Linked DNA regions of Homo sapiens: region 1 is linked to region 2. The links come from fine-mapping of genetic effects on gene expression. A gene starts in region 2. The other region holds a variant in brackets. All regions are shown on one strand. Distances are from middle to middle. Region 1 overlaps SLC22A3 (solute carrier family 22 member 3). Region 2 holds the start of SLC22A3 (solute carrier family 22 member 3).

The links. PIP is the estimated chance that this variant, and not a neighbour inherited with it, causes the effect.
Region 1: its variant is the best candidate, but not a certain one, in a credible set for the expression of SLC22A3 in unexposed skin (GTEx, PIP 0.80).

Annotation. Positions count from the first base shown.
Region 1 is chr6:160,428,239-160,443,459 of GRCh38, reverse strand. SLC22A3 (solute carrier family 22 member 3) reads right to left here. Exons shown (of 11, transcript NM_021977.4): 6 at 6,583-6,680; 7 at 6,249-6,463; 8 at 591-699. Among named protein-coding and RNA genes, the nearest start is that of SLC22A3, 87 kb to the right of the region's middle. The variant C/T (reference allele first, on the strand shown) is at 6,304.
Region 2 is chr6:160,340,448-160,355,668 of GRCh38, reverse strand. SLC22A3 (solute carrier family 22 member 3) reads right to left here and starts at 7,291. Exons shown (of 11, transcript NM_021977.4): 1 at 6,821-7,291. The coding sequence starts at 7,249.

The DNA of each region.
Region 1 (15,221 bases), 88 kb before region 2:
CGTTTCACAGTAAGGCTAGTGAGGAAGTCTCCAGCGTGGGTGGAGGGTGTTATCCATCAGCAACCCACTGCCCTGCCTGCTCTGGGTCACTTTGTGCTACTTTGGTTTCCTCATCTGAGGGAGAAGTGTGCCCAGGGAATGCTTCCTCAGCAGAGGAGGTTGATTTGCACTAATCCGTGCACACTGTTTCATTTCATCCTTCATAACCAGCTGCTCACCACTGCAATGCATGTAATGCAGTCAAAGAGAGGCCATAGTCTTGCAGCAGGTGATGCTGATGGATACAGATTTAACCCACAGTCTAAGCAAGGGCACCTAGAGGTCTTCTGGTTTCAAGTTAAGGGCCTTTCCTCAAAACCGTAACAGTGTGTGAAGATATTAATATGAGAAATACTTTTATCACAAAATGCAGCAGGCAGCAATGCAGAAAGCAGTGATAACTCAAAGCATATCTTCTTTACTAGCTGGATTCAGCCTAGGCTAATATATCACTGAGCTAAGGAAACGACTTCATAGTTTTTAACTAAATCAACTTAAAACGCTGGTCTACAGAGTTACTTAGGAGAAACTATAACGTTTGTTAGAATTACCGTAATGTTGTTGGGTACAATTCTGAATTTACCAAATAAACAATTTCAAAGGCCATGGTTATCCCTAGTCTTCCCAATGTAGCCACTGTGGTCCTCAACCATGCTATTCCTGCAAACACAGAAAGTTTGAAAGGGAGGAGTTAGGGGTCTGATTTCATTAACATTTTACAGAACAACAAAAAGTATTTGCTTAGTGGCCTCCAGTCTGAAGTCTTTGCCAATTTTAAGCACAAATGATAGAACTTTCTAATAATGTAACCAAATTTCAACAACAATGAAACTAGATGATAGCTAATATTTTAGAGCGCTAGATGCCTTTCTGAGCAGGTTGGATTATAGGAAGTACAATTCAAGAACCGTTTGTTGAGCATGAGCAGCCACTACATTGGAACATTGTTCCAGGCAATGACCTCCTAGAGAGCCAAAGCACACTGGCTTTTTGTCCAGGTGGTAGTTTCCAGTCATGCCTTTGAGCCACCACGTTCCCACAGCTGGTGCCCAGCTGTCCTTTCTGTGCATACCTTGCGGTGGTGACACAAGGAATAGCCGTTCCCAGCACACCTGGGGAGTTCCTCACGTGAGCTGACCTTGGTTTCTAGAGTGGAGCAAGCTTTGAGGACCAGGATCTTTGGAAGGGGACATCTATTCTGTGTGTTACCACTAAGGCAAATGTCACTCATTGTCTTCTTCATCCCCCATTGTACTACTTCCTTCAATAAACCATCCAGAAGGAGCCACATTCATCAATGCTAATTGGTTCGTCCATTTTAAAATGAACTGTTTTAGGACTGCTCTGGTTGTATGAAGAAATTTTCCTTTCCTCCCTACTAACTAGTGGGAAATGCCAAACATTCTATATTAAATATTTTCTTTCTTTTATGTTTTAAGGGCAGAGGAGTTAACCATTTTTACTCTAAAAAGTCACTGCTCTAGCTTTCCTAGAAGTTGTGCAATTGATGTCATCCTTTCCTAGGGGATTTGGTATTGAGGACATATGTCTGCATGAACAAGACCATATCTGCTCTCCAAAGCAAAACGAAGCATGTCCAGTGTTCATGTGCCTTTCATTTTCCCTTTATATCCAACACATATGTTCATTTAGCACTAAATAGTCCTCCTGTTTCCTAGGGGAATTATTGAACCTTCCTGAATATATAATTTTTTAGTAGAAATGAATGAGGAGGATGAAAGAAGAGAATCAAGCCCAGTAGACTTCTGTGTGTTCTCTCTAGAGAATAGCCAAGTCAAAAAAAAAAAAAAAAGCTAAAATTCATTAAATAAAACAATTGCCCAGGAGCACAGGTGTAAGGAAAAGATGGCTCAAGAATCCAAACCATTTCTGGGAGTCTGAAGTTTACATATTTTGACTGCAAACTGGCCAAGGACATCCTGGTGCACTTGATGTTTTTCCCACATGAGAACCCTTGTAGCTGTCACGTTAACGGTTATATCAGGCAGTGAGGAGGCCAGGGTTGTGCTGATGTGCTGGGCCACTGTCTGCTCTGGAGCAGAAGGTTTGTCAACATGTGTTATTTAGGCTTTGCTTCTTTATGAAGACCAAGAAAAGGGGGGAGTGGAGACTAGGTAATGCATTCCACTCCATCTTTCAATGAGCATGTGGTACTGGAAGGGGAAAGTGGGAGCAGAGACTCAGATTCCCTGGGTCCCAGCCCGATGGGACCATCTCCTGCCACTCCCGGGCTGCAGTGAAGGCTGCCTGCTACCTAGGAAACAGCTTCACTATCCAGGTTGGGTTCTTCCATTGTATGTTTCTTTTCACTAAATCAAGATTGCTCTAAAATTGAGTCCCACCGACAAATTCAAGGGCAATTTGGGTTTATAACCGAGGCAAGGTGTTTCATGGAAAAATCCAAACAAAAGCCAGAGACCAAATTAAAACACACACACACACTCCACCATGATAAACATATGTGGTTAACTCAGATAAATAGCCAGTCAATTCAGTAAAACATTCAGAAAATGCCAAGTTGCCCCATTTGTGGAGATGTGGTCTGTCCGGAACATTGACCTTAATCTGAAAGACTCCCAACTCTTTTCCAAGCAGTAGAGTCCAGTATCAAACTATACTGGAACAGAGATTTTGTTGAAATGTGTAACCAAAGAAAAGTTTCTAAGGCATTGCATGGTTCATTAACTAAAGAGTGAAAAGAAAACTGTAGGAAGTATGAATAAATATATACACACAAAGAAATTCTTGATTCCAGTAATAAGCTAAATTCATTTTGAGGTGGCCATAGACATCTTTTGGTAGCAATGACAAAAACCACAGGGCAATTTAAAAATGAGTACTGAAACTAAAATTGTCTTCCATGGAATTACATGAGAACAAAGAAAATGTTTTCTTCTGAATGTGGATTTGGTCAAGCTACTAGAGATGATTGGGAATAATACCTCAATTCCTGAAGAAAGGATGCAGGACTTAAACAAAACTTTATATGTCCTCTGAATGGATCATCTACTCTGAGTTCTGAAATAAAGTTTAGTGAGAAATTCTAGTAGAAATGTCTAAATTAAGATACATGAACTCACTTTTCAATTAAAGAAAAATAAAAGTGGAAGACAAGTTTTCCAGTTCAAGAAGACGACTTATCCAAACTGCTAGGTTTGTGGTCATCCTAAATAAACTCAAATTAAAGATGGCAGACAGGTATGGATAAAGAAAGGTCTTTATTTTCCAGACATTAATGAGTGTTAAGAAATTTGGACTAGAAGCAGTGAGTCTGAGATGAGAATACAACCAGAACTACTATTTCTTCTTCCAGAATTCCATTCTTTAGACCATGAAAAGTTGGGTCGAGTGGAGGGAAAGCTGATTAAAGTGTTTGCTGTGAGACTATTTTAGAGCTGGTTTCTCCAAAAGCTCATCTGTATTCTCCCCAGGGGCTGGCGACCTACTACTGACGTCAGGAATGGCTGAGCAGAAAAGCCTTTCTCGTGCTAATTAACCAGTGGCTGGAATCAAGTCCAATGGGTCTTTAAATTGGAAGGACTCAAGGGAGGATCGTCTGTTAATATTTGGAACTCAGTTTAGGGATTTGAAATGTATTCTTGCCAGTCAGTCATGACTGACATATGACTATAAAAGCAGCCAAGTCTGCAGAAGGTAAAAATAAAATGTGTCTAGAATAAGAGCAATTCATTTTCAGTCTTGCTGAGAACAATTCTAAAGCTTCAATCAGGAAATTATATCTATAAAATAAAACTGGTTAGACAAGGGAGAACAGTCTGTTCTTGGTGTTATATTTTCCAATATATGAAAGAATTCTCTACAAAATAGTTATATGACTATCCGGCTAGTTACTTCTGTCTTGATTTGGACACACAGCCTTGAATGCTTTCTGGGGTCATTCTGAATGCAACAAACATTAAAGTCATCCCAATCAATCTAGGACCAGAGAAAATCTTATAGAGTAAAGTATATATATATATCATGAAATGAGGGGACACACCGAAGCATGCATCTTTCTCGCTGCATTTCTAATTTCATATACAATGAATATTTCATTCATTCCTAGTCCACATACGATGAGAACAGAAGACTTCATCTCAGGGAGCTACAGTTGTATGTTATATCCAAAGTACCAAAGTAAAATAGAACAGTAACGTCTCCAATGTTTGCGATTTTTCACTCTTCTTAAATTATACAATTTTGAGGGCAGGAATTATGTCTATTTTGTTCACCTCTCCATTCCCCTCCTAGTTCAGTGGCTGGCAATTAGTCGATACTAAATAGATACGTATTAAGAGATAGCTATTGTACAGATCCTCCAACTCTTATAATATGTTAATTCCATGTAGTGGGTTGAACAGTGTCTCCCAAAATTCATGTCTACCTGGAACCTCAAGGCTACTACATTTGGAAATAAGGTCTTTGCAGATGTAATTAGTCAAGGTGACACTGACACAAGCAGAGAAGAGAATGTCCTGTGAATATGGAGGCAGAGATAGGAGTGACACCAAGGAGCTGCAAGGATTGCCAGAGAGAGGCATGAAGAGACCCTTCCCCAGAACCTCTGGACATAAGCACCCTTGGATGCCTTGATTCTAGACTCCCAGCCTCCACACCCCTGAGAGCATAAATGTCTGTTGTTTCAAGCCGGTGAGTTTGTGGTACTTATTACAGCAGCCCTGGGAAGCGAATGCACTCAAGGAAAACAAGAGAAATGTAAATAGGTGGTTGCTGTTCATCATCAAACATTCCAACATGTCAGGGGACTTGTACATTGTGTGTGTGTGTGTGTGTGTGTGTGTATGTGTGTGTGTGTGTGTTCCGAATATTGGCATTCCTGTAATTTTATTCAAATAGGGCCTACCTCGTGTTTTAAGAATTCATAAACCTTCATTTAATTAATAAACTCATCTGTAAATGTCTGACTGTTCTGACTCCCACTATATTGTCCATTTCTTGGCTGGTCCTCAGAGGATTCTCAAAGAAAGACAGCCTTTTTTGTGCAGACACAAAGGATGCCTGGAGAATCCAGCTTTCTCTGTAATCCCCACTTTGCCTTTCCTGGAAGAGGGGAATGATGAACTTGCTCTACTTCACACATCCCCTGGGATGTGAAGCCCTCCTCCTCCCAGTTCCTGGTGTGTTCTAGGGTAAGGATCTTCTGGGTGCTGCTCACCACACATCAGGAGTCACGGCACCCTCTGCTTCCTTCTGGCCTGCACCCCATCTACCAGGCATGGAGCTCTGAAAAATTTAACTCTGCAACATCTCTGAAATGAAATGACCCTCTCTCATCTAGGTCTGACTGCCCCAATTGTAACTCCTGCTCTCAGCATCTCCCCCTGCTCATAGCCATCTCTAAACTGCTGCAGTTATGCCAAACTCACTCCTCCTCCTCCGCAAGCTCACAGGACCACCTGCAGGGCTGGTCATGCTGGTGACAGATCATCTCTCAGGCTCCTTGTCTGGATTCCAGTCACAGCAATGAACCCTCAGTTCCTGCATGCACAAAGGTGTTTCATACTTCTGGAAACTCTTCTCTAGTTTGGAAACGTCCGTCCTCTCTCTCCCTGATATCTGGCACATTTGAGTCTTCACGCATGTTTAGTTCCCACTGCTGGGAAGCTTTTCTTGAATCCCCTTCTGGATTGATCACTCCTCCCCAATCTATTTTTTTATATTTCTAAATCTTGTAAATAGTTTAATTAGTTTCTAAATCTCACAAATAATTCATGACAATAAGAATCGTGACAATATTAAAGTATCTGTATCCCTTAATAGATTGTGAACCATTCGAAGTCAAGACTGCGTTCTTCTATGTGTAACCTCAGCGTTTAGCATGGTGCCAGCAGCATGGCAGAGGTTCAGGAAATAAGTTAAACATCAGAGATATCACAAAAGTAAGTCACATAAAGATGAGTAACAGAAACCACATCGCTATCAGCTAGATTGGGCACAATATCTATTTCATTCATAAATGATCCTAGCAATTGAGAAAAGAGAATCATCTACAGAACCAATCTCTTACTTCGAAGTTTTTATGCTGATTAAGCAGAAAATGGAGTGACATCACGAAAGACTGTGATTCCATTGCACATTTCCTAAGAACAAGTGGCTCCCTATACTTGATTGTGGATTTAGGTGTTTTCAAGTCCTTTGGCTGCCAAACAGATGTGGGGTAAGATTACCTTCTGGTAAGAACGCAGTGACAAGGCATGCCACCCCTGCCACTATATTGCTTGC[C/T]GCAAAGGGGAGGCGTCGTCCAAGGCGCTCAATGGTTAGTAAGATCAAGAGAGCTCCTGGCAGTTCCACCACGCCCGAGATGAAAAAGTCTATATAGAGGTTGCCCCCTATAATTCCCAGGCGCATGACAAGTCCTTGATACACCACTGCGCTTGTGAACCTGTAGCAACATTGAAAGACACCAGAGAACAAGTAAGAGATAACTTCAAGCTGATTTGAAGGAAGGGATGTATTGTAAATTTAACGCAAGCTTTTAAATCCATCACAAGTCAAACTTACCAAGCAAACATAAGAATAAGTGTGCATTTCCTCATTTGGGGAGTTCTCACCAGATCTAAAAAGGATGGATTACTAACTTCCTCATCTGTAACAGTGATCTATATAAGAAAAGCAGATTTCAGTAGCAATAGACAGAAAAAAAAAAAACCTGCATAGTATAGACTTGTCATTAACCAGAATCAAATGATCTTACTGAAGTGACTAGGGGCTTTCATAATATCTTAAAACCTGACAATTAAAACACTTCTGCTCTTGCATTTAGAACACATCAAATTCACAAAGATAGGATTGCTGCACTGAGAATCTGTTCTTAGGATAATTTCAGTACTTTATGTTAAACTGCTCTGTATGTTCTAAATACATATGCACATTTATTACATTGGGGGAAATGAGAGTCAGGGTGGGTGAAGCAAGTGGGATCCAACCAATTAAGGGTTTCTTTATAAACTAAATCCTCAAATCTGACTTTCACAAACAAAATAGAGTAATGTTAAGTTTAAGAGTAAGCACCAAAGGTATTATTTTGCTTTTGCCCATTTATTGTAATCTAACATCTTTTTGATCCAGAAAAATTCAGCTCATCTCTAGCTGGCCATCCAAGAAACTGGTCTTTTCAATTCAATTCAACAAATACTGCTATTGGCCAACTACATACAAAACACTGAAAAAAGCGAAGCTGGAGAGGACACCCCCCAATCCCCACATCCTGCCTCCAGTCTAACATGCGGAAGCATCAGAGCATGATACCCTGCAGTGACCGCAGCTCCAGTTTCCTGTGCTTGTCAGTCTCTTACCTCTGCATGGAGGGCTCTTTGACCTCCTCAGTCCTGATTTTACCTCCCCTGGGAAGCCTTTCCTAGCCTCAGATAGAACTGATGGCTCCCAAATTCTGCCTCTACTCCCCGGACCTCTATCCTAGCACCTGTACAACAGCACTCCCCTGTGGGTCTGGAGCTCTTGGAAGGCGGGAGTGCATTGTCACACCAAGCAAAGTGCCTGGTGTTCAACAACTGTTTGTGTAATGACTGAGTGCTGAAACAAGAAGTCAAGTGCCCTGGTCATATCTGTTCCTCAGTGTCGTCCTGGGTTTCTCTCCTCCTATTAAACAAAAATGCTGGCTACTAAGGACAAGACCGATGCTATCTATTTGTACAACTCCAGATTTGGCCCAGATTGAATGAAAATCTAGGCACATTTTCCCCAAAGCTTTGAGCTAAAGTCTCTCTACCAGTAATCACAGGAATTTGACTTAGAGCATACACACACTGATAGTACCTTGTCAATCACAGATTCTAAACAGTAAATTCAATAGATCAACCAAAGCTTGATATCTTATGCCTATCTTTGCTCCAAGGAAAGTCACACACACACAAAAGTAGACTGCAAAATGAATGCCTTTGGTCACTTTCTTTTCCAAAGTCTTCACAATCCTGTATTTCTTCTATACCAAGACACATTGGTTTTCTACATTTTAACATCTCTTAATTGGAAGGTGTCCTACAACTGAGCTGGTAAGAAAGAAATGTGTCCCAGTTTAAACAACATGGTTTCCTTTACTTAGTGGTACATAAAATGACTATGTGTCTTAAAATCAATAGTGTCTAGAGTCAACAAAACAATAGTTTCCATGACAATCGCCGTGGAAGACTGCTGATGGATTCCACCATCCATGCTTCCCTTCCCTCTTTTGAGAATACGTAGAATTTTAGTTGGGCATATGGCAGCCTAGTGACAGTCATTTTTTCTATCCTCTTTTTCAACTGTGAGTGGCACTGTGATTAAGACCTCAGCAATGAGGTGGTTGTAGGGGTCATGTGTATAAGTTCTAGGTCTCTGCATTTAAAAAGGTAATAACTTGCTGGAAGAAGATGCTGGTGAGCTTCAACCATACCACCTGTGTAGGCGATGGTGGAGATGCAAGATAAATGGAACTCATGGAGTAGAGCTGCCTCACTAGAGCTTGGCTGCTCACCTCTGTGTGCGTGTGCTAGAGAGAAAGACACTTTTATCTTTTTCATCACTGTATTTTTGGGGCCTTGTTTCATTAGCAAGTTGACCTGGATCTTAACTAATATAATGTCTATTAAGATGACCCCTGAGCTAACCTTCTAAATTTGAAGACCCCAGTGAGGGATTTTTCTGTGTCTACCTTAACCTTTGCTGCTCAAAAAACAAGACAGGAATATCAAAAGTGAAAGATAGGAACTCCATAGATTACAAATATATATTATGGTATAGTTTGTTGCCAAAATGTTTTCTACAATTCATTTCTATGTGTTAATACATTAAAATGGCTAGTGTTTATGGAGTGTGTGATATTAGATTCTAGACTAAGCACTTTACGTGGATTATTTTAAGTCTCATCAAAGCTCTATAAAGTTAGTACTTCTGTTAATCTTATTCTATAAATAAGGAAAACAAGGCTTAGGACTTTCAGGAGTGAATAGTACACAGGTAAATCAGCCAGGAATTGAAACCAGGCAACTGATTGGTGGAGCCTGTGTTCCTGATCCCCACACAGCACTGCTGAATATATTTCATTCTAGAAACATTCTTGATAGTTGATGGCCACATCTAAATATTTTTAAAGAAAGACACTGTGCACTTGACCTAAAACTGAATCTTTAATTAAAACATTGTTTTATGAAAAAAATTTGACTAGATAATTTAGATTTTAAAGATCTTTAAATTCAGGATTAAAACCACCCATCCTGCAAGGACAATGTTCCTCCATGAAAGTATCACCACCAACTCGTTGCCATGAGTTTTTCCTTTTACTGAGGGCTTTTCCACAACTCAGACTTGGGGCTGCCGGGCAGTGTCAGTCTCAGACTCTTCTCTCTCCAGGGATTCCCTGACAGGATCCCTTGTCTACATATCAATACCACTGTCCATTCAGCACACACAGGTGGCAATACTTTTTTCTTTGCTTTTCAAAAGAAATATTCACAGCAATTTATTACTGGCTCTCTTTTATTTCCTCTTCAGACTTCTGCTGAGAGCTATGACTTCTATCCACTAGCTATGAGTGTGAACAAATTCACTCTCACTCAAGTTTCCAGTTCCAACATCCCAGAGTTGAAGGGAAATCCTACATCACATATTTCAAGATCTCTGGTCAGTTCAGGTAGATAGTTTGACTTTTTAAAAAAATTTAAAAAAATTTTTTTTGAGATAGGGTCTCTCTCTGTCACCTAGGCTAGAGTGTAGTGGTGTAATCATGACTCACTACAGCCTCAACCTCCCGACTCAAGCAATCCTCCCACCTCAGCCTCCTGAGTAGCTGGTACCACAGGTGCATGCCACAGCACCTGGCTTATTAGTAGCAGTAGTAGTAGTAGTAGTAGTAGTAGTAGTAGTAGAGACAGGGTCTTGCTGTGTTGCCCAGGCTGGTCTTGAACTCCTGGGCTTGAACAATCCTCCTGACTTCGCCTCCCAAAATGTTGGGATTACAGGCATTAGCCATCATGCCCAGCCTAATTTGACATTTAAACACATTTGTAGATTTTTCAGTTGTTCATGATTCTTCACTGTTTTTAAGTGATAAAATAAAGGAGCATCTCTTGCTTTCATGTTAGCTCTGTAGATAATTGCCTTTCTCTGGCAGATCTCCAGTCACTCAATGACCACAGAATTATGACATGTTAGATTTTGACAAGAAAATAAAGATCTTATGTATTAACCTAGAGGTTGGCGAACGTTTTCTGCAAAGGGCTATATATTAAATGTTTTTGGTTTTGTGAGCTCTAAGACCTCTGTTGGAACTACTTACCTTTACCATCGTAGTGTGAAAACAGTCATAGACGATACATAAATGGCTTCCAATAAAATTTATTTACAAAAACAGGTTGCCTGCATGTCTGGCCTGCAAGCTGTAGTTTGCTGACCCCTGAATGAGAGGCTTAGTGCTGGAGAAACTTGTACAGATACTACTATCATTCCTATTACAGAGAGAAAGAAGTTGAGGTGGAGGAAAGCTATGTACCTTACCCAAGGAGGACACACAGACAGTAAGAAGATGAACCAGGAGGTTGATAGCAAAGTCTGTATTTTTAACCATTATGCGGTAATGTGTCTGCAGTATGTAGAATATGATATTTATTGTTTAAAAGTATGCCGTATCATTTCATTAATTACTTTCTTCTTTTCAGCTACAAATAATCTCTGAAAATTAAAAATTAAGCCTAACATTGGGAGGCCAAGGCGGGCGGATCACGAGGTCAGGAGTTCGAGACCAGCCTGGCCAACATGGTGAAACCCCGTCTCTACTAAAAATACAAAAAATATCTGGGCTTGGTGGTGGGCATCTGTAATCCCAGCTACTCGGGAGGCTGAGGCAGGAGAATCGTTTGAACCTGGGAGGCGGAGTTGCAGTGAGCCGAGATCGTGCCATTGCACTCCAGCCTGGGTGTCGGGGAGACTCCGTCTCAAAAAAAAAAAAAAAATTAAGCCTACATTATTTTTGTAACAAAAAAAAAAGCTCACTTTTAAAGTCATGGACTTAAATTAGACACAGCGTACCCGATTGTTGACTTCCTTCTCTTTCCTAACAGAATTCCCACTACACTCTCCCGCACCATCAATTCATATGTTTGTGGGAGCTGAGTCTCCTTCTAGTTGTAGCGGGAGGCCTGATTAGTTTAGGGAAATCGTATCCTCCATGTCAGTGACTGGGCACGTGACCCAATTTGAACCAATGAGAAATGGGCATACAACCCAATTCGGGCCAATGAGAAATGGACTTCTGGGAAAGTCCTTCATTGCTTTTAAGTCAGAAGTTCCTGAAGAAATCTTTTTTCTTCCTTCAAGGAATGAATGAGGAAATTGTGGGCTCACATACAACTTAGCAGTCATCTTACACTGATGAGACAACAAGTCTTAAGATGAAGCTATCCTGTCAACAGAGTGGAGAGAGGAGAAGAAAACCATGGTTTAATAAGATTGTTGAGATCCTGGTCTGGCCAACCCTGAATGCTGCTGTTGCTAGAATTCCAGACACACGAGCCAGTGAATGTCCTTATTGTCCAAACCTATTTAAGTTGGTTTTCTGTTACTTGTTGCCAAAAGCAGAATTATCTGAAGAATCCAATCCAGAACAATGCTTTTCCTTTAATAACTGAATATTTTAGGCAATTTTTTTTTAGCAAATAGTTAAAATAATTGCTTCTATACTCCAATCCACTCCATAAAAATACCTGGTATAAGTCTTAATTTCAAACTTTTAGAAGTTAAAACAGAGTGGTAATATGATCTCTGCTTTTCCAGACCACAAGTTTACTGCCTCATATATATCATCTACCAAAAAAAAAATACGAGGTGTTGATAACGAATGAAGGGAGTCAGGACTGTGAAACCAGTCTTCCCTGTCCAGTGAATGAAAGGATTAAGAGTACTTCCAAGCAAGTACATATTTTGCTACATTTAAGGACAAATCCAGCTGGTCTTTGATTTACTAACATCTCCACAGTGACGCAGATATTCTGAAAGATGACCCACTTTCTAGGCATCCAAAGGCCTTGAGAGACTTAAAACCGTATCTTGGATGGAATTCATCCAGGAAAATCTTGGCAACTCCTGCGCCGTGGCGGCCGCCACTATTATTCTTTTACAATAACTTCTAGCTCTATATCTGTGCTGATTTTCTGTTGCCAAAGGGTTACTAAATTTTGCCTGGTCTGAGTCAGACACACAAAAAAACAAAATGCTATACCAGGTTTAAAATTGTTTTTAAAAAATTGCTTTATTACCTCACATACCATTTACATGCACTTTATGATATTTACATGTAATTTATGTACAATAAACTTCAGCAATTCTAAGTGCACACTTTGAAGACTTTTGACAAATATATAGTCTTATAACCACCACCACAACCGTGGTACGGACCCTTTCCATGATCCCCAAAAGTTTCCTTGTGTCTCAGTGAAGTCAGTCCCCTCCCCCCACTCTGGGCTCTGGAAACCCAGATCTGCTTTCTGTCATGACAGTTTTGCTTTTTCTAGAATTTCATAGAAACAGAATCAACAGTGTCTCACTTGGCGTCCCGTTTTGTCATACCTTTTATGCTGTCTAAATGGGGGATGCTGGTTTTGATTTGAAGCAAAGGGAGAAAAGGGTGATGTTCCGGGTAACACTATCTGTTCAGAGGCTTGTTGCCTAGTATCGACACTCTCTATTCATGGGAAAAGGTATCGCTCAAGGTTAAACTGCAGAGGTTAGTTTCCTTGTATTTATTTAATGAGCTGAATTGCTATTTGCCCTATTCATCTCTTTGATTATCTTTTAATTCTGCCAAGACTGTGTTTTCCATCAACAATTATGTACTCCATATTAAAAGAACACTTTATTCGTCTTTCTTTGATTAATTCAGCTCTCTTTGCAATTCTTCCTGGTGAAACATTTCTTCAAGTTGACGTCTTCATTTAAATTGCCAAAGAAGAGAAAGACATTATAAATAACCATCTGTTATAAATATGGTGTTCAGAGCTCCCCACGTGGAGGACTGGTCTCGGGTCAGAAAAAAGACAGTCAGGGTTAGGCCAGACATGTGGTATTCTACTCAGAACATTTTTTTACTAGCATGTTACTTAAACTGTTTGAGCCTTAGTTTTCTCATCAGTAGCAGGAGAATAATAATATTCAAATATATTATTTTAATATTATTATTAAATATTATTCATTTATCAAATCACACCTTATTAGTGTTTTGAAAATTCATTTAAATAACCCATCTGTCTATATAGATACATAGATATGTGTACATATACACAGATACATACAAGTGTGTATATATATACATATATGCACCTATAACACACACACACCTGGCACACAATATGTCATAGTAACAGAGGCTGTCAACATTAATCTTATGTTTTATAACATTTGAGAGTTACTTTATTTTCAGGTGATAATTCACCCAGCACTTTTTCCTTTAGTAATTAGTAGCTAATGCTGTGACACATAAAGGCAGATGCTTTTAAAGGTCCTCAGATAAAGAGAATGGTTGCTCTGCCTTTTTTTTTTTTAAGAAATGGATTTCTTTTTATGTTGAATTTTCTTAAGTATACCAGATGTATTTAATGTTGATTTGGAACTGTGGATCTACCAGGCTTAAGGCAGGATACTTTTTCATGAATGTGCACACTGGCAAATACCACGTACGCAACCTTGCAACTCAAAGTATGACCCACAAGTCAGCAGCGTTGGTCTCCCCTGGGAGCCTGCTGAACAAGCCCCGCCCCAGATCTAGAGAGAGAATCTGCATTTTAACTGCATCCCCAGGAGACTAGCATGAGAAGCACTAAGAGTCAAGGAACAGCAATCCCACCTCATCGGCTCACTCCCATTGTTTACTTCCACCTGGGGCTCTGGGTGCAGAAACGTGAGTCCTCCCAGGTTTAGGAGGGAGAAATACATTTGCCAGCAGGGTTTACCATGGGCAGGGGGAAGGGGATGGTGTTAGTAGCTGCTTGTCTAGCCTTGTGATTTCGTCTGGTTATTCTCAATAGGAGACTTCTTCATCAGTTGCCGTATTTCACAAGGAAAGATGACACCAATAAGAAAGAAAACGTATTTGCTCTTGAGTATAATACTGTGATTTATTCAGTGAATGCATCATCACTAGTTCCCTAAAGGCTCTGCTCTCTAGAAACTTTTCATCTCTAAGAAGTCTGTGTGAATAAAATGTTATTTGAGGTCTTTGGGCTCACCGATTGGGGGAACCAGAAACCACCTTCAAAAGTTAAAGTACCCATTGGTCTTACAGACAAGCATCAGGAACCAGAGGGCCTGGTGGGGCTGGGAGGAAGCTCGGCAGTGACAGCTGAGGTGCTCATGTCCTTCCATCCCACTGCCCAGTGGATAATGAGCTCATTAGTCAGACGAGGACCAGCCCAGAATAGCCAGGAGTAAGCATGTCACATTACAGAGCTGTAGCCAGCTTCTGGGTGGAAATAGCACTATCTGGTACCCATAAAAGAGAATTTGCCAAATTACCTGTAGTACTTCGGCAATTTTTGAAAACCTCCTTATCCTTTAAAACAAGAGTAGATAAAATATTTACCATGCAAGAGCATATACGATGGGGAAATATTTGTATTAAAATTATCACAAATGTTTGATGTTTATTAAAGTAGTTAAAAATAAATCCCAGTCCTCTGGACCAATGCTGTCCAGTAAGAATATAATGTGAGCCACACGAGTACATTTACATTTTCTAGTGGCCACATTAAAAAACATAAAGAGAAACAGGGGAAATTAATTTATAATACTTTTCATTTAATCCAATAGATCCAAAACATGATCATTTCAAGGTGTAACCAATATGAAATTATTCATGAGGCGTTCCATACTCTTTGCTTCCTATTAAATCTTTGAAATCCATTGTACAGTTTACTTGATAGCACATCTCAGTTCAGACTTGCCACATCTCATGTGTTTGACTGCACATGAGGCTAGGAGCTACCGTGCTGCACTGAGCGAGTCTGGTCACCTGCAGCCCAGGTGGCTCTTTCTTTGAGACACTGCATGGAGAAGATATTTTATTCCATTAGTTTGAGTTGGCCTGAAAGAGTGCCCCAGTCCCCCACCTCCTAGATGACTGGGCATGCTGCCCAGAACAGCAAATGGGCCTCTAT
Region 2 (15,221 bases):
TCCCCGGTAGCTGGGACTACAGGCAGCCGCCACCATGCCTGGCTAATCGTTTTTGTATTTTTTTTTTTTTTAGTAGAGACGGGGTTTCACCGTGTTAGCCAGGATGGTCTCGATCTCCTGACCTCGTGATCTGCCCACCTTGGCCTCCCAAAGTGCTGGGATTACAGGTGTGAGCCACCGTGCCCGGCCGAGGAAAGACAGGTATTTTGAGGAAAGGAAAGGAAACAGCGCACACAAGAGCCCAAGGGGAGGACAGCTGTGGCACATGTCCCAGGGTGACTGCCTGGAGAGTGGGAGCCCCGGGGGCTAAGAGAGGGAAAAGCCTCTATAGGCGGAGACATGGGGTGGAGGCACAGAGACCTTGTGTACCAGACCTAGGGGAGGATGCTCTTAGAGGCACCAGCCTCCATACCATTTTGTCAGGTGCCCACAGCCTCGTGACCTGTGCCCTGCCAGGAAGCACACTAAGATGCTGTATGAGTCAGAGCAGCCTAACAGGAAGAGCTGCAACAAGCAGTCTCCCAAGCCTCAGTTGTGTAACACAATAAAGCTTATTTCTTATTCGCAATCCCATATTCCTGTGCAGATGAATTGGTGTGGAGGGGAGCTGTGGGGCTCCTGCCTGCCTCGCATGCCTCCAGGAACGCATATCCTTCCGTGTAAGAGTTCCACCATCCTCCGGGGACTGCAGGAGGAAGGTTGCTCCGGCTCCAGGCTTAGCAGTTCCACATTCACTTCCCCAACATCACTGACCAGGACTCAGACACGTGGCCTCTCTAGCTTCAAGGGAAGCTGGGAAATATGACCTACCTGTGGGGTCCAGTGGGAAAGTATCGGTATTCTCAGCCTTTAGAGCAAATTAGTGTCCGAGATATTTTATTTTATTTTTTAGAGACAGGGTCTTCCTCTGTCACCCAGGCTGGAATACAGCAGCACAGTTCGACCTCCTGGGTTCAACCTTCTGAGTAGATAGGACTACAGGCATGCATCACCACACTCGGCCAATTTTTTAAAAATTTTAAAATATTTTTGTATAGTTGGAGTCTCAAAATGCTGCCTAGGCTGGCCTCAGACTCCTGGGATTACAGGCATGAACCACCACAACTGGCCAAGGCTTTGACTCTTTATATTTAAGGCAAATTTATCAGTGATTTATTATGCTAGACCAGGGATCAGCAAACTTACAGCTCCAGGGTCAAATCTGGCCCATAGCCTGTTCCTTCCCTCCCTCCTGACTCCCACCTGGCTTAAGGGTCTTTATGTGTTCACAGGAACCAACTGTTCTGAGCACCACCTATGACCAGGCACTTTGCAAGCATATGTCAAGCCAATTGCTAAGGCAGGCATTCTTGTACCCATTCTAGTGCTGAGGAAACTGAGGCTCAGGCAGATGCTCAGTTGACTTGCCCTTCAAGTTAATAGAGGAGCTGGGATTTAGGACAAGATTTATCTGACACCAAAGGACATGTGTATTCTTTCCACTCTACTAAGATGTCAATGCCAAAAATAACCCGTGGGTCCAAAAGTACAGATGTCTCTGCAACATCTGTTGGAGTCCCCTACCTTTGCCCAAAGCTCCTTTCTAAGGTTTACCAAGACTCCCAGAAAGTGTGGTTCAGCTGTGGGCTTCCCCCGCTCCCCAGTTAATTCCAGGATTTTATTATCAGTTGCCCATCCCTGGAGAGCTCAAAGCTCTCTGAAAATAAACAGCAGCATTTCATCTGATAAGATTTGGGATACCTGTCTGAGGATAAAGGGATAATGTTCCCCTCTGAGAGTCTCCAGGGTGTGCTTGGTGGAACTGGCAATTCTCTCCCAGTCATTATATTCTCATCATGCTCCTCATTAAGAAACACCCAGCTTGTCTCTCTGTGTGGTCCATGGACCATCTGAAAAGGGCCCTAGATGTTTGTGAAAAAGGAAAATTCCTGAACTCCAACCCTCGTCTTTTGATTCCAAACCCTGTGTGTGCGACCCGAGAATGCACACCAACCACTGCTCCTGAGGGCACAAAATAAATGGGTGCAGAGAAAATAATGAAGATGAGAGGGTGTGAGAATAGAACATCTTTTCCCTCATATTTTCCTCTTGGACTCCTCCTTGTACTCAGAGGTTGAGGTTAAGGTCAATGTACTTTCTGCCCTGGTTCACTCCTCTGTCCCATCAGAGGGTGGTACCCTTTATCACACCCACAGCCACTGTCATCACATTATCGCTGCAATTTTCCCTGCCAAGCTTCACGCTGTTTTGAGAAAGACTCGTGTATCTTTGTATCCCCAGCCTAGCCCAGTGCCTAGAATAAAATAAATGCTAAATAAACTTCAGCTGAACTGATGTTGATAATCCAAAATATCAGCTGCCAGAGAGGAGCAGGAGATACTCTTGCACATTCTCATAATGAAGGTCCTTATTGTAAATATTTTCCTTGTTCTGAGGTCCAGAAAGCATTGCTGCATGAATCTGTTTGGCCATTCTGCTGCCTAGACCAAGAATCAGACACCTAGTGGGGTGGCTGTTCACTCATTAGAGTCCTGCTTTCACTCCATTAAAAATAAACTATTAGGCTGGGTGCAGTGGCTCATGCCTGTAATCCCAGCACTTTCGGAGGCCTAGGCAAGCAGATCGCCTGAGGTCAGCCTGGCCAATATGCTGAAACCCTGTCTCTACTAAAAATACAAAAATTAGCCAGGCGCGGTGGCGGGTGCCTGTAATCCCAGCTACTCAGGAGGCTGAGGGAGGAGAATTGCTTGAACCCGGGGGGCAAGGTTGCAGTGAGCTGAGATTGCACCACTGCTCTCCAGCCTGGGTGACATAGCGAGACTTTGTCAAAAAACAAAACAAAACAAAAACCTATTACACTATTAAAACACTTTTGTCATCAACAGAAAGGACTAGTTACTCTGAGGGACAAGGGCCAACATAAAATTTTTGTTGAATTGTTGATGTTTCAGAAAGTATGGGAAAGACACACTCTTCTAATAAAAACAAACAATGGATTCAGTTTTTATAGATTCAGCCAGGTAATCTGGAAGGGAAAAAGTGATTCCAAGTCAAAATGATCTGGAAAGGAAAAACAAATGTGATTCAGTCTATTTTTAAAGGTGTTCTGAAGCCCTGCTCTGAGTGATAGCCTAGGGAAAAGCTCTTTTTTTTTCATCCATACCATATTAGCAAGCATTGAAAAATCCTAGCATCAATCTTGAAGACACTCCCTGGGCAGTGAATTGAAATATTTGGGACAGGGGGTCAGACTCGCTTCTCTGCGTTACATTGTATTTTATTCTGCCCAATATCTGACAACAAGATAAGGCCGAGATTCGGACATTAGAAAAGTCTCCACTGAGGAAGTTCAATGTGGGTGATAAATCCACTGCCTTGCCTTGAGCAGGAGACACAAATTAGGAGCTGGCCATAAAGGGATGTGCCCTTGGCATTGATTTCTGACTTAGTGTCTTAGAACTATCTCAAGTTGTAAGATGCGAAGGTGGTGTATGAGATTTAAATGACCATTTTGCAACTTTCACATCAGGAGGCTAGAGAACCATTCCCACCAAATGAAAGCACAGCCTCCCCATCTGCCAGTCTGGCTGACTGTGGATCCTGACACCGTAAAATGAAACAAAGTAGCCCATTGGAGGACCATGATAGTAAGAAAATAAATACAAAGTTTCAACGAGGTTTCTGCAGGTTATAAAGTGTGAGAGATCTGAGTACTATGTTTCATGGACTTGCTTGAAGGATTTTGAGCACTTTATGGAGGAAAGTGGACTGACTTACAATCAAGGCCCCCGGATTTGAATCCAGTTTGGCTACATAAATGGCGTGGGACCCTGGAAGGTCCTCAGGTCTCTCTTCTATGAAGCCAGGACAATGATACCCCTCCCACCATGGTGCAAGGATGAAGTATTATAGCTATATGGAGGCATTCTGGAGTCTGGTCATCCCGCCCACTTTGTAAACTCTCCCAATTCACCCCTTTGCATGATTTGTATCTTAGGCTTCAAGTTTATAAAAATACACTGGATACATAATGTTAGCTGAAGATGGAACTACAGTTCCTTTCATCAGACAGAATTTGAAAGAAAAAAATTAGTTGAACCAAAGACAGCAAAATATTAGCTATGCAGAATTCAGAGAGTTGCTGACTTGTTTTGGATAGTTGAACTTTATGAATAGATGGGGGTTTTCCTCTTAAGAAACCAAACATGAAAAACAAACCAAAAGAAGCACAAAACTATTTGGAATTTAAAAAGAGGCTGGGCGCGGTGGCTCACACCTGTAATCCCAGCACTTTGGGAAGCCAAGGCGGGCGGATCACGAGGTCAGGAGATCGAGACCATCCTGGCTAACACAGTGAAACCCCGCCTCTACTAAAAATACAAAAAATTAGCCGGGCATGGTGGCAGTCGCCTGTAGTCCCAGCTATTCGGGAGGCTGAGGCAGGAGAATGGCAGGAACCTGGGAGGCGGAGCTTGCAGTAAGCCGAGATCACGCCACTGCACACCAGCCTGGGCGACAGAGAGAGACTCCGTCTCAAAGAAAACAAAACAAAACAAAACAAAAAAGAATCTCTCCAATATATTTCAAAAACTTTTTTGGGGCTTTACGGGGTACATTCCTAATATCATTCTACTTTCTTAAAGACTTTTTAATCATTGTTCTGGGCACACCAAACAGTAACCAGGTGGTGACCCTGATGGCATTTGGAGCATTGTAACGGGCTGAATCCAATGGCTAATTTTACAGAGGAAAAATACAAGCCCAGAGAAGGCGAGTAACTCACCCAAGCCACACAGCCAGCTGGAGACCGAGCCAGCCCCTGACCCTCCATCATTCCACACTGCATTTTAGTAGCCACTGATCTTCATAAAATCACCTTATTGTAACCCCGGGATGCTAGTAACCCTGCAACTCCAGAATGCTTCCAAAGTATCCGTCAGAGCATTAAATTACAGATTTTTATGTCTGTCTTCTTTGATGTCCATGGATCATACTCACTCATGCAAACCTCGCTTGAGCACTTGTTGAGGCTCGTTTTATTCTTCATCTTTAAATGTCTCCAAAAATCAGCTGTCTGCCCTCCATGTGGGTCCTCTGGTTCACTTGGGAAGTAAGCATTAGGCAGCGCTGCTGAGTGGAGTGGAAGAAGCCACCTAACAGATGCGACTCACAGAGATAATGCCCTCTCTCATCCAAGTCCATGCCCTGTCCTTTCAACTGTGAAATCTCTAACCAGACCATCACCAATTATAAAGCAGTCCCCAGCCTTACCATGGATTAAGTAGAAATTAAAGATCCCAACACACATATGTATTGCCTGGCTGTCTTGCCAGGGGGGTTTATCCTGAGATCACTCAGCATAGAGCCACTCAGTGTGCGAACACACTTGCATGTGGCATTATAGAAACACCCTGAACACACATACACATTGCCTGGCTGTCCTGCCAGGGGGTTTTATCCCTGGAGCACTTAGCATAGAGCCATCCACTGTGCGAACACAGCAGCACACGGCGTTACAGAAAGATCCCAAACACATACACACATCGCCTGGCTGTCCTGCCATGGGTTTTATCCCTGGAGCACATAGCATAGAGCCATCCACTGTGCGAACACACCAGCACATGGCGTATAAAACATGTACAATTGCAACCACCGACACTCCCAACTGCAGCGAGATAAGCTCACCAGACCAACAGCAACAGCGGCAGAAAGGGCGCTCCTACCTCCTCATCCAGTGTTTTCCCCACTCTTCAAGTAGGTGATTTTTTAAAGTTTATCACAAAAAAAAGACAAACCTTTTTTCCTAATGTACCTGATCACATTCAATCTTTTTTTAAAATTAACTTAAGCTGTGATTGTAGACAAAGCTCAGTAAAACTGCTCATCTCTGCAACCCATGCTCAATTGAGGCCGTTTCTGAGTTCCGATTATTACAAAGTGACTCTGCTCTATATCTGGACCTCACAGAGAGGCAATCTTCCATTTCAGCAAGGATGCAGAAACAGATTACTGAGGGCAAGGGTGAAGGAAGCTCCCCTAACTTCCAAATGCACTGACTGCCCAAAATGTGGGGATCGCCCCCGCCCACCCGCCGGCAGCAGCCTCCGCCTGTAAATGGGTTGGGGATTTGCGTTGGAAGGCTGTGGCCCTCCCGCTATGTTCCTAAAATTTATTACCAGAAAAAAAAACTAAAATTTATCCAATACTTCAGTTTTCCCAACTTATCCCAGATGTTGCTCTTTGCCCCAAAGCAATTTTACCAAAACCATTCCCCGGGAAAGCCTCGACCTTTGTCCCCTTGCATTTTGAGTAACCATTTGGGCAACTGGAAAAAAGCTGCTGCTGCCTTCAAACGTTGGTTCGCCCTTTCCTTTGACCCTGGAGACCATAAGCGAATCCGGAACTGCCAACGTCGCTCACCCCAGAGACTGAAGTTCCCTATCGCGCACCTAACCATAATTTCCAATGACGGCGCCCGCACACCTCAAAGATAAGGAACGCGGTGCTGGGTCTTTGACTCCTGAGCAGGCGTGCGCCAGGCGTTTACAACTCGGCTTCGAAGAAAGTTTTTGTTCACACCCGAAACCAAAGTATCTGTGCATTAACTCACGGGCTCAGGCAGATAACGAAAGGCTTTTCCCAGCATTTACGACGCGGCACTTCCAAGGGTGCGCTGAATCCTGTCTGTCCCCAGAGGTAGCCGACCGGTCCCCGTCTCCACCGACCTCCCCTGGCGGCCAGCGTCTCACACGCGGCTTGTCCGCCTGGGAGCCAGCATCGTCCTCTCCCGCCGGCTTCCAAAGGGCCGGGGCGCCCTTACCTCGCTGACGATGGTGGAGTGGGCCTGGGCGTAGCGCCAGCCGCCGCGGCACGGCACAAGGGGAGCCGAGCGGTTGGGGAAGGCGGCGAGTGGGTCCGCGCAGCTGAGAGCGCTAGTGGCGGAGGCGCTGTCGTTGGCCGCCTCCAGGAGGTAGCGCTGGCAGCGGCCGCGGCGCTCGGGGGGCTCTGGGCCGCGGGAGGCGGGCGCCGTGCGGTTCCACTCCTCCTCCGGGCTCCAGCCGCAGCGCTCGGCCAGCGCCGCGGCACTTGGCCCGCGGCACCAGTAGTGGTCGGGCTGCGTGCCCAGGAAGACCACGCCGACGAAGAGGAAGGCGAAGGTGACGCCCGTCAGGCACAGCAGCAAAAACACGCGCCTCTGGAAGCGCCCGAACTCGCCCACCCGCTGCAGCGCCTCGTCGAAGGAGGGCATGGTGCGCCCGCCGCCCGCCGCCCGCAGCCCGCGCCTCGGAGTGACCCGCGGACCCAGCCGGCGGCCTCTCTTTACTCCGCCGCCTCCCCCGCGCCACCCGCCTCACTCGCCCTGGCGCTGTGCCGGCCGCAGCCGCTCCTCCTGCCCCCCGCGGCCCCCGCCTCTCTTCCCCGGGCGCCCGCAGCAGCCCCGGGCCACAGGTCGCGGGAGGGACGGCCGCGAGCCGGACGCACCCGGCCGGGGTGGGCGCGCGGTGGGGCTCGGGCGGTGCGGCCTGACTACGCGCCAGGGACCCGGCCGGGACCGCGAGTGACGGGCGCAGCCTCCGGCCTGGCGCGGAGCTCCTTTTGGTCCCTGCCAGCAGCCTGCTCTGCAGTCAGCCCCAGGTCGGGCTCCAGAAGAAGAAAGTTCCAGGGTCACCCGACCACTCCCGGAACTTCTGGGACCCGATCTCTCAGCGGCCCGGAGTGCAGCCCGGGGACTAAGGACGCGCGCGCGCGCCCCGGGTCCGGTGCCTGTGCCCGGGAGAGCCCCCTCCAGCCCTTGGCCCTTGCGCGTGCGGAGGCCTCCTGCGCCCATGTGGGGCAGGGCAGGGCAGGGCAGGGCAGGGCAGGGCAGGGCAGGGCAGGGCTGCCCGTTCCCAGCACAGCGCTGGCCATCGCCCTCGACCCATCGAGAGCTACAACTTGGGATTTGATCACCCAACTTTCCCCAGAGGGCAGCCGGGCAACCCACACAGGCGAAGGGGCTTGCTCAGCGTCCAGGAGGTTTGGGGTGAGAAGGGATCGCCTCAAGGCCAGGCCTGATGCAGACCTCCTTCGCCAGGGCCTTCCCACCCACCTTCGGTCTGAACGCCAGGGAAGGGTGTTGGTGGTTGGTTTGAATCCTGGTTTTTCCGCTTACTTATTGCGCCTGCCAATTCGGCAGAGCGCGATCAGAACTTCCCGCCCAGGCTGCCCAGGCTGCTGGGTCCATGCTGGGACGCCTTCCCCGGGCTGGGTCGCGGTCCCCCCACGCCCCCACGTTATCGGCCCACGTTCTGCCTTTAGCTCACTTTTCTCCAAGGCCTTGGGAGGACTTGCGGTTCCTCCTCCGGAACAAGGAGTTTGAAGCCAGGCTGCTTGGATTCAAACTGGCCTCATGTCCTCACCAGCAGTTTCAACTGCCCGCTGGACCCCAGACTCAGTCTGTCCCCCTCCAACCCAGCTCCCCTTTCCTGCCCTGCCTTTCGGTGCAACCATGTCCTGGGCCCAGACTCAGAACCTCAGTATGGCGGGGACACCACTCACTCCTCAGGCCTGTACTCTTAGGTCATCTCGGCTTGGAACCCCTTTTGCCAATGTTGGAGCTCAGAAAACAATACGCCAAAATGAAGGCCTCAGAAGCAGTCTCTGTGTCATCTTCTGCCCTCCTGTCTCTCGGTCCCATTCTCCCCCAGGCTAGCCATCGAAACCAGAACGCTTTTCCCCAAAGCCAGTCATAAAACAAAAATATCACTGTGATTTTCCCTCACTTGTCTGTGTAAAAACTGGCCATAAAGAAATCAACTGTTCTACCTTGTTGATTGCAGTCCTAAGACCTCCCATTCCACAGAAGAACCTGCCCCTTACCCAGAAGGAAAAAAAGGCTGCTCAGAGAGGCCAAGAAGAATCTAGAGCCACCGGCCTCGCTGGGTTTCCTCACTCAGTATCAGCATCAGATCACACCCTTTTGGTCCAATCCTATTTCGACAGGGCTCTCCATGTTTTGTTGAACCTAAGCATAAAACTAGGCAATTTCCCCTGTATCTTTGGGCCTTCCTTCTGAAGGCCCCCATGTACACCTTAAATAAATAAGTACACCTTTTCTTCTAGCCATCTGCCTCTTGTCAGTGAATTTTCAGGGAACTGGGACCAGTCAACAACCCACCCCAACCTCTGCATACACTAGCACATTCCCCCCTTTCCTGCTTTGTCTCCAAAGCACTTATCATCACCATATATTGTCATAGATATGTTTTTATTCATTTATCATATATTTATATTTATACTTATTCATTTTATTTATTTATCTTATCTGTGTCTCTCCATTACAACTCAAGTTTCATGAGGGCAGACAGTTTTGTATTTTCTTCTATCGATACCTTCTGGAACAGTGCTTGGTGCATTGTAGGTGCTCAGTAAATATTTGTGAAATAAACAGATGCTTCTTGACTCCCCCACCACACACACTCACACACACTCATACACACTCACATGTCCCCTCATCTCAGCTATGTGATTGCCTTGGGCTCCCCTCAGGGTTCTGTCCCTGCAGCACCTGTCCTCTGGTCCAGCCTGCACTTGGGATCATCTTCCCACAGTGCAGCTTGGGGGTGCCACCTTCAGCAGTTTGCCTTGTTTTCTAAAATCCTCCTTTCTCACTCTCCCTTTCTAGCTCCTAACCTGTATTTCTCCTCAAATTGTTCCCTGTGGACAGCCAAACAGAACTACTTGCCAATCTTCACATTCTTCTTGAAATTTTTAAAATCTATGCCTGTACACACAAAGTTTCCTTTTCTTAGAATTTCATCCCCCTATTCCTCCCTGCCCATCACCCAGCAAGGCCTGGTTCAAATGTCAACAGCCCCTCTTTAAAGTCTTCCGCAACCACCACCACGGCCTTCCTCCCTCAGCAATGCAGTCCCCATCAGTGCTCCTAACATATCTAAGAAAATTTTCATGGAAGTTCACTATATTTTTTTTGTATTGTGGTTGTCAGGGTATTTTAATTTTAATTACTTTTTTTTTTTAAAGGAAGTCATCTCAGCCTATGGACAGATAGATCCAGTATAGTTGCTAGCTACATGGTGGACCTGGGAGCCAGACCCACTGGATTCAAATCCCCCTCTCCTCCTTATAGCTGAGTGATATTGGGCAAGTTATTTAGCCTCTTCTGTGAAACTGAGTAATAATAGAACCCTCTCATTTTTAATGCAAATCACTTAGAACAGGCCTTGAAACATAAGTGCTAGGTAAGAGTCAGCTAATAATAAAAAGAGCGATAAAACCACCACCCACCCCCAGAATTAGCAAACATCATCTTATGTTTGCTTTGGATATATTGTTATAAAGTCCTGACATATCACAGACACGACTGGAGTCTCCTTCCTGTTGCTTCAGATCCTATCCTCTGTCTCCTCCCTTCCTCCTTGGGGCAGCCATTAGGTCTTTTCTTTGGGACATGGGGCTCAGAGCTACCGGGCAGGGAATCCCAGGGTCCCAGCTCTCAGAGTGTGGTTGGAAGTGGGTTGGGGAGTGAGGGTGATTGGCTTGAGGTGAGCGCAACCTCTTGCCCCTTGAGGAGGTCAGGAGTAGGGCCTGAGTGGGCACCCGCAAGGCCCCAGGCCTCTCTTGCCCAGATGTAATTCGCAGGAAGCTATGATTCTTATCTGTTTGAAGCCTTTAACACACAGGTATTGCAACGAAACAGTAGATAGTATTTAGAGTGCTTTGAAAATTTTACATAAATGGTACCATACTCTATGTAGCTTTCTGTCCCTCCTTTTTTTTACTCTACAATATATTTTTGAGACCTGTTAGCCTTGATATATAGAGATCGGGCTCGTTTACTCTAACTTCTTGTGTCTTTCTATTGAAAGGTCATCCTATGACTTTTCCATTCCCCTACTGGGGAACATTTAGCTCATTTAAAATTTTTCACAATTACAAATTGTGCTGCAGTGAACATATTGTGCATATTTCTTTATGTATTTATGCAAGAATTGGTCAAAGATAAATGCCTAGAAGTAGACTAGATGAACCATAAGTGTGCATGTTTGAACTTTACTAGACATTGCTGTCAATGGCTGTCCTCAACTGACATCCCACCAGCAACACATGAGTTGCTTCACGTCCATACCAACACTTGGTCTTGTTAGACTCAACCACGCTAGCAGATACTATGGATGAAAAATGTGGCCCCATTGTTCTGATCTAGTCAGGGATGTGACTAACACATTTACATATTTATTCATCATTCAGGTTTTCTCTTCTGTGAGTTGCTTCTTCCTATCATCTGCTTATGCTCTCTTTGTTATTTGTGGCGGTTTTTTTTCTTATTGGATTTTTGGGAAATTATTTGCATATTTGTGTATTCTGCTTCTCTGCCAGCTGTATATATACAATCTTCTCAGTCTGGGGATTGTCTTTTAACTTTTAGCATCTTGGATGCTACACAAATTTTAAATTGTCGTATAGTAAAACTGATCATCCTCCTTCATAGCTTCTGCTTTTTTAGACTTGTTCTAAAAATCCTGCTCTAGTGTGAGATCTTAAGTACTTTCTTCTATATATTCTTATTAAATCTTATTTTTCAAATTGAGGTTTAATATCTCTGGAGTTATTTTTGTGCAGAGAATGGTGGGATCTAACTTTACTTATTTCTTTCGAATGGACAACCACTTGCCCAGATGCCACTTAACTGAACTTCTTCTTGACTTACACTATTGCCTGTCTCCTAAATTAGGTTCCTGCCCCTGCTTCCATCTGTTTCTGAGCCTTCATTCTGTCCTACTGAATCTGGTAATATCTAATAAGACAAATCCCACCTTTCCTCTCCCCTCACCTTGTCCTCTCCAAAATTTCCTTGACTATTCTTGGACTCTTTTTCTTCCACACAACCTTTACATTTTATCAAATTCCACAAAAATCAGTTGAAGTCTTAGTTTTAAATCACGTATGCACTTTTTTTCTTCCATGGCATTGTAGGCATTTTGAGAGAAAAACCGAATCACTCTCAATTTTGTATCTTTGAAACATCCGTTATCTGTTCTATATCTGCACCATCCAAAATGTTGTGCCCACTTAAACGTAGATTTATTAAGATTAAATAAAATGAATAATTATGTTCCAGGCATATTCCAAGTGCTCAGCAGCCACAAGTGCAGGAACTAACACATTGGCTTGCACAGAGAGAGAGAGAGAACATTTCAGTCGCCACCAGACATTCTGGTGCACAGAGCTAATCAACACATAGTAATCAATAAATGTTGGTTAAATAGCAATAATAAGAATCAATTGCCCCACAACCGCAGGCTTTTGTAAAAACATGCTGACATTAACTTTTCTTAAAAAGGTAATCATTTTAATTTATTCATCTGAAGTTTTATAGTTGGTAGTTTTATTGCATTTAGAAATGAATATACCAATACCAGAATATTCACCACATATTGAGTTGCTGAACTAAGTCATCATGACACTTATGCAGTTTGGGAAGAGTAAAGAACTAAGAAGATTAGTTTGGGAATGCTATAATAAATGTTGGTTTCAAGACTTTTTTCCTAAGATTCATGGGAGGGAAATTTGGCAGGTGAACTGGTACATGTGCTCCAGCCTACAGAAAAAAAAAATGAAAATTCATATTTACTTTTTTAACAAGTGGATAAGAATGTCTGAAAGTCTCTCATTCTTTCCTTATCTGGCGTGGAGTTGCTGTTTTTTACCTTAGCATGTGAATGTAATAAAATCTACAGAGCACTCCCATTATTCTATGGCCTATAAATAGACCCTAAAGTTGAGTTAAATTGACCAGCAATCATAATTATCTGTCACTTGCCAGTGGATTATGATTTGGACTTTGTTAGAGGAAAGTCTTCATTTTTTGGGGAAACTATTACAGACCTTTTGAAATAGATGCTTTTTCTATATTTAAAGCCTATAGGATCTTAGACTTAAAGTCACCTTTGGAGAAAGGGGTAGCCAAAAAGAAAATGCTAAATAGGACTAAATATTCCAGAGTTGAATTACAACAAGAGAATTCTAGAGTTCGTATCTTTTCATCAAGCAGTTTTGGGCAGGGATGGGAACTAGGCTTTTGCTCATGCCCCACCACTCTCATTTGGCAGGAGCTATCTAGAGCACAGTGTTGAGGCTGACTTTGAGGCTGAGTGGAAAACAGGCCCCAGCTGGTTAGGAATGTCCAACACAGGAAGAGAAAAGGAGAGTGGCAGAATGAGTGTGAAAAGGTGGTCAACCTTCCACTGATCAATGCAGCTGGAGAAGCACCACATTGCCACAATACTCCTCATCGGCCTCCACAACTCTTAGGGCAGGCATCCTGTCCCTTAAGTCACATCATAAAGTGCCTCATCTAATGAATCACATTTTTTTCCCACAGAGCTACTGAAATTCTCTTAGAATATTCCATTCTAACCATATACAGATGTGGTTTCTAACAATTTGGAAACCTGGATTTTTTGGCCTTCTATGTTTGCTTGTGTTGTAGAAATCTTAAAATGGAATATGAAGCTTCATCTCTACGTGCAGAGGATCACTATCCAAATAATGTTGCACATGTGGTTGTATAAGAGTCGAATTAAACTGTTTTTACCCTGATGTGACCAATCTTCACCTTCCAGGCTCAGAGCCTGTCCAATGCTAAGCCCATAGTGCTGGGTTCAGAAGTCATTGGATTTGGCACAATAAATGCTAAGACTGAAATTCCTAACACTGTTAAAGTAGGCAGGTTCACTTATAACACTGTGAAGGTTTGATGTAAACTTTTGTGAAAAGTATTAATGGGATACTTAAAAAAAATTTTAAATTACAGTCGCCATTCTACTTGTAGATTACTTTTGCAATTAGTTTTTGTTTGTATTTTTTAATTATAAGTGATTTTTTCTGAGTCAAATCATAATTTCTCATTGTGGTATAAACCAATAAATGATTTCTTCCTCAAAATACAATAAAATTAAGATCATTAGACCATTTCCTGGTTGTAAAATGCAGCGGATTCAAGTTATTTTCCTTTATCATGAAACCAAAATGTATAAATTATGGCCATCCAGGTTATTTTTCGCGCAGTTTGTACATATTTGTACAAAACCTGTACAAACTAAGGCAGGTTTTCTGAGGCAGTTTGTAGAACACTGGAAGATGAAATATTCAAAAATTTTTCTTTTCTTTTTTCTTTTTTTTTTTTGAGATAGGGTCTCACTCTGTCACCCAAGCTGGAGTGCAGTGGCTCAATCACAGCTCACTGCAGTCCCAAACTCCTCGGCTCAAGCCATCCTTCCACCTCAACCTCCCAAGTAGCTGGGACCACTGGCAAATACCACCACACTCAGCTACATTTTGTATCTTTTGTAGAGATGGAGTTTTGTTAGGTTGTCCAGACTGATCTTGAACTCCTGGGCTCAAGCGATCCTCCCACCTCAGACTCCCAAAATGCCGGTATTACAGGTAGGAACCGCTGTGCCCAGCCTGAAATATTTGGTTTTGTAAGATTTTAAAGCTATGTCTTAAACATGAAAAGGTGAAATCCATCTGAAAAATTTAAAAGGAAAACTTTTTATAATGAGTCCCAAAGAAACAGAAGGGGAACAAGAATATCATTAGGAAATTTGATGTAAATGACAGGAGTATATACAAATATTTCTGTTTTAACTGTCTTTTATTCTTGTTTTATGTAACTAATTGTCTAGATAATTTTACAATTTATATTGAGTAGCAGCAATGGGAAGACTCCATCTGAGATGCTACTGTAAACATTCAGAGAAAAGCCCAGGAGAATGGCAGAAGAGAAGAGTTCATGGATAAGAAACTAGTATGAGCAGCAAGTCACCAAAGTGTTGTTTTGTTTTTATATTAAGATATCTTAGGTTCTCCCTAGAATCCACAGTCCAAATTCTGATCTCAGATTTACTGTGAGATAAAGGGTACGTGGGACCTGTTTGCCTTTCCTAAACATGAATGAGAGAGCTCTGGTTTGTGCATTTCTGGCTTTCTGCAATTCAGAGCCCGTTGAGACCGAGAGTGCCTCTCCAACCTCTTGTGAGAAAGCCCACTCACATTCCTCAGTTCAGCCCGGTCAGTGCCCAGGTTCCAGCCACACCCAAGCATGGCAACATGTTCCCCTCAGGGGTTTCCTCAGAAACCAGGGGCTCCCCACTTAAGCTAGCAGCCACTGTCAAAGGCAGGCTGGCTCCCCGGTTCCCTCTGCATCGTTCAACTCG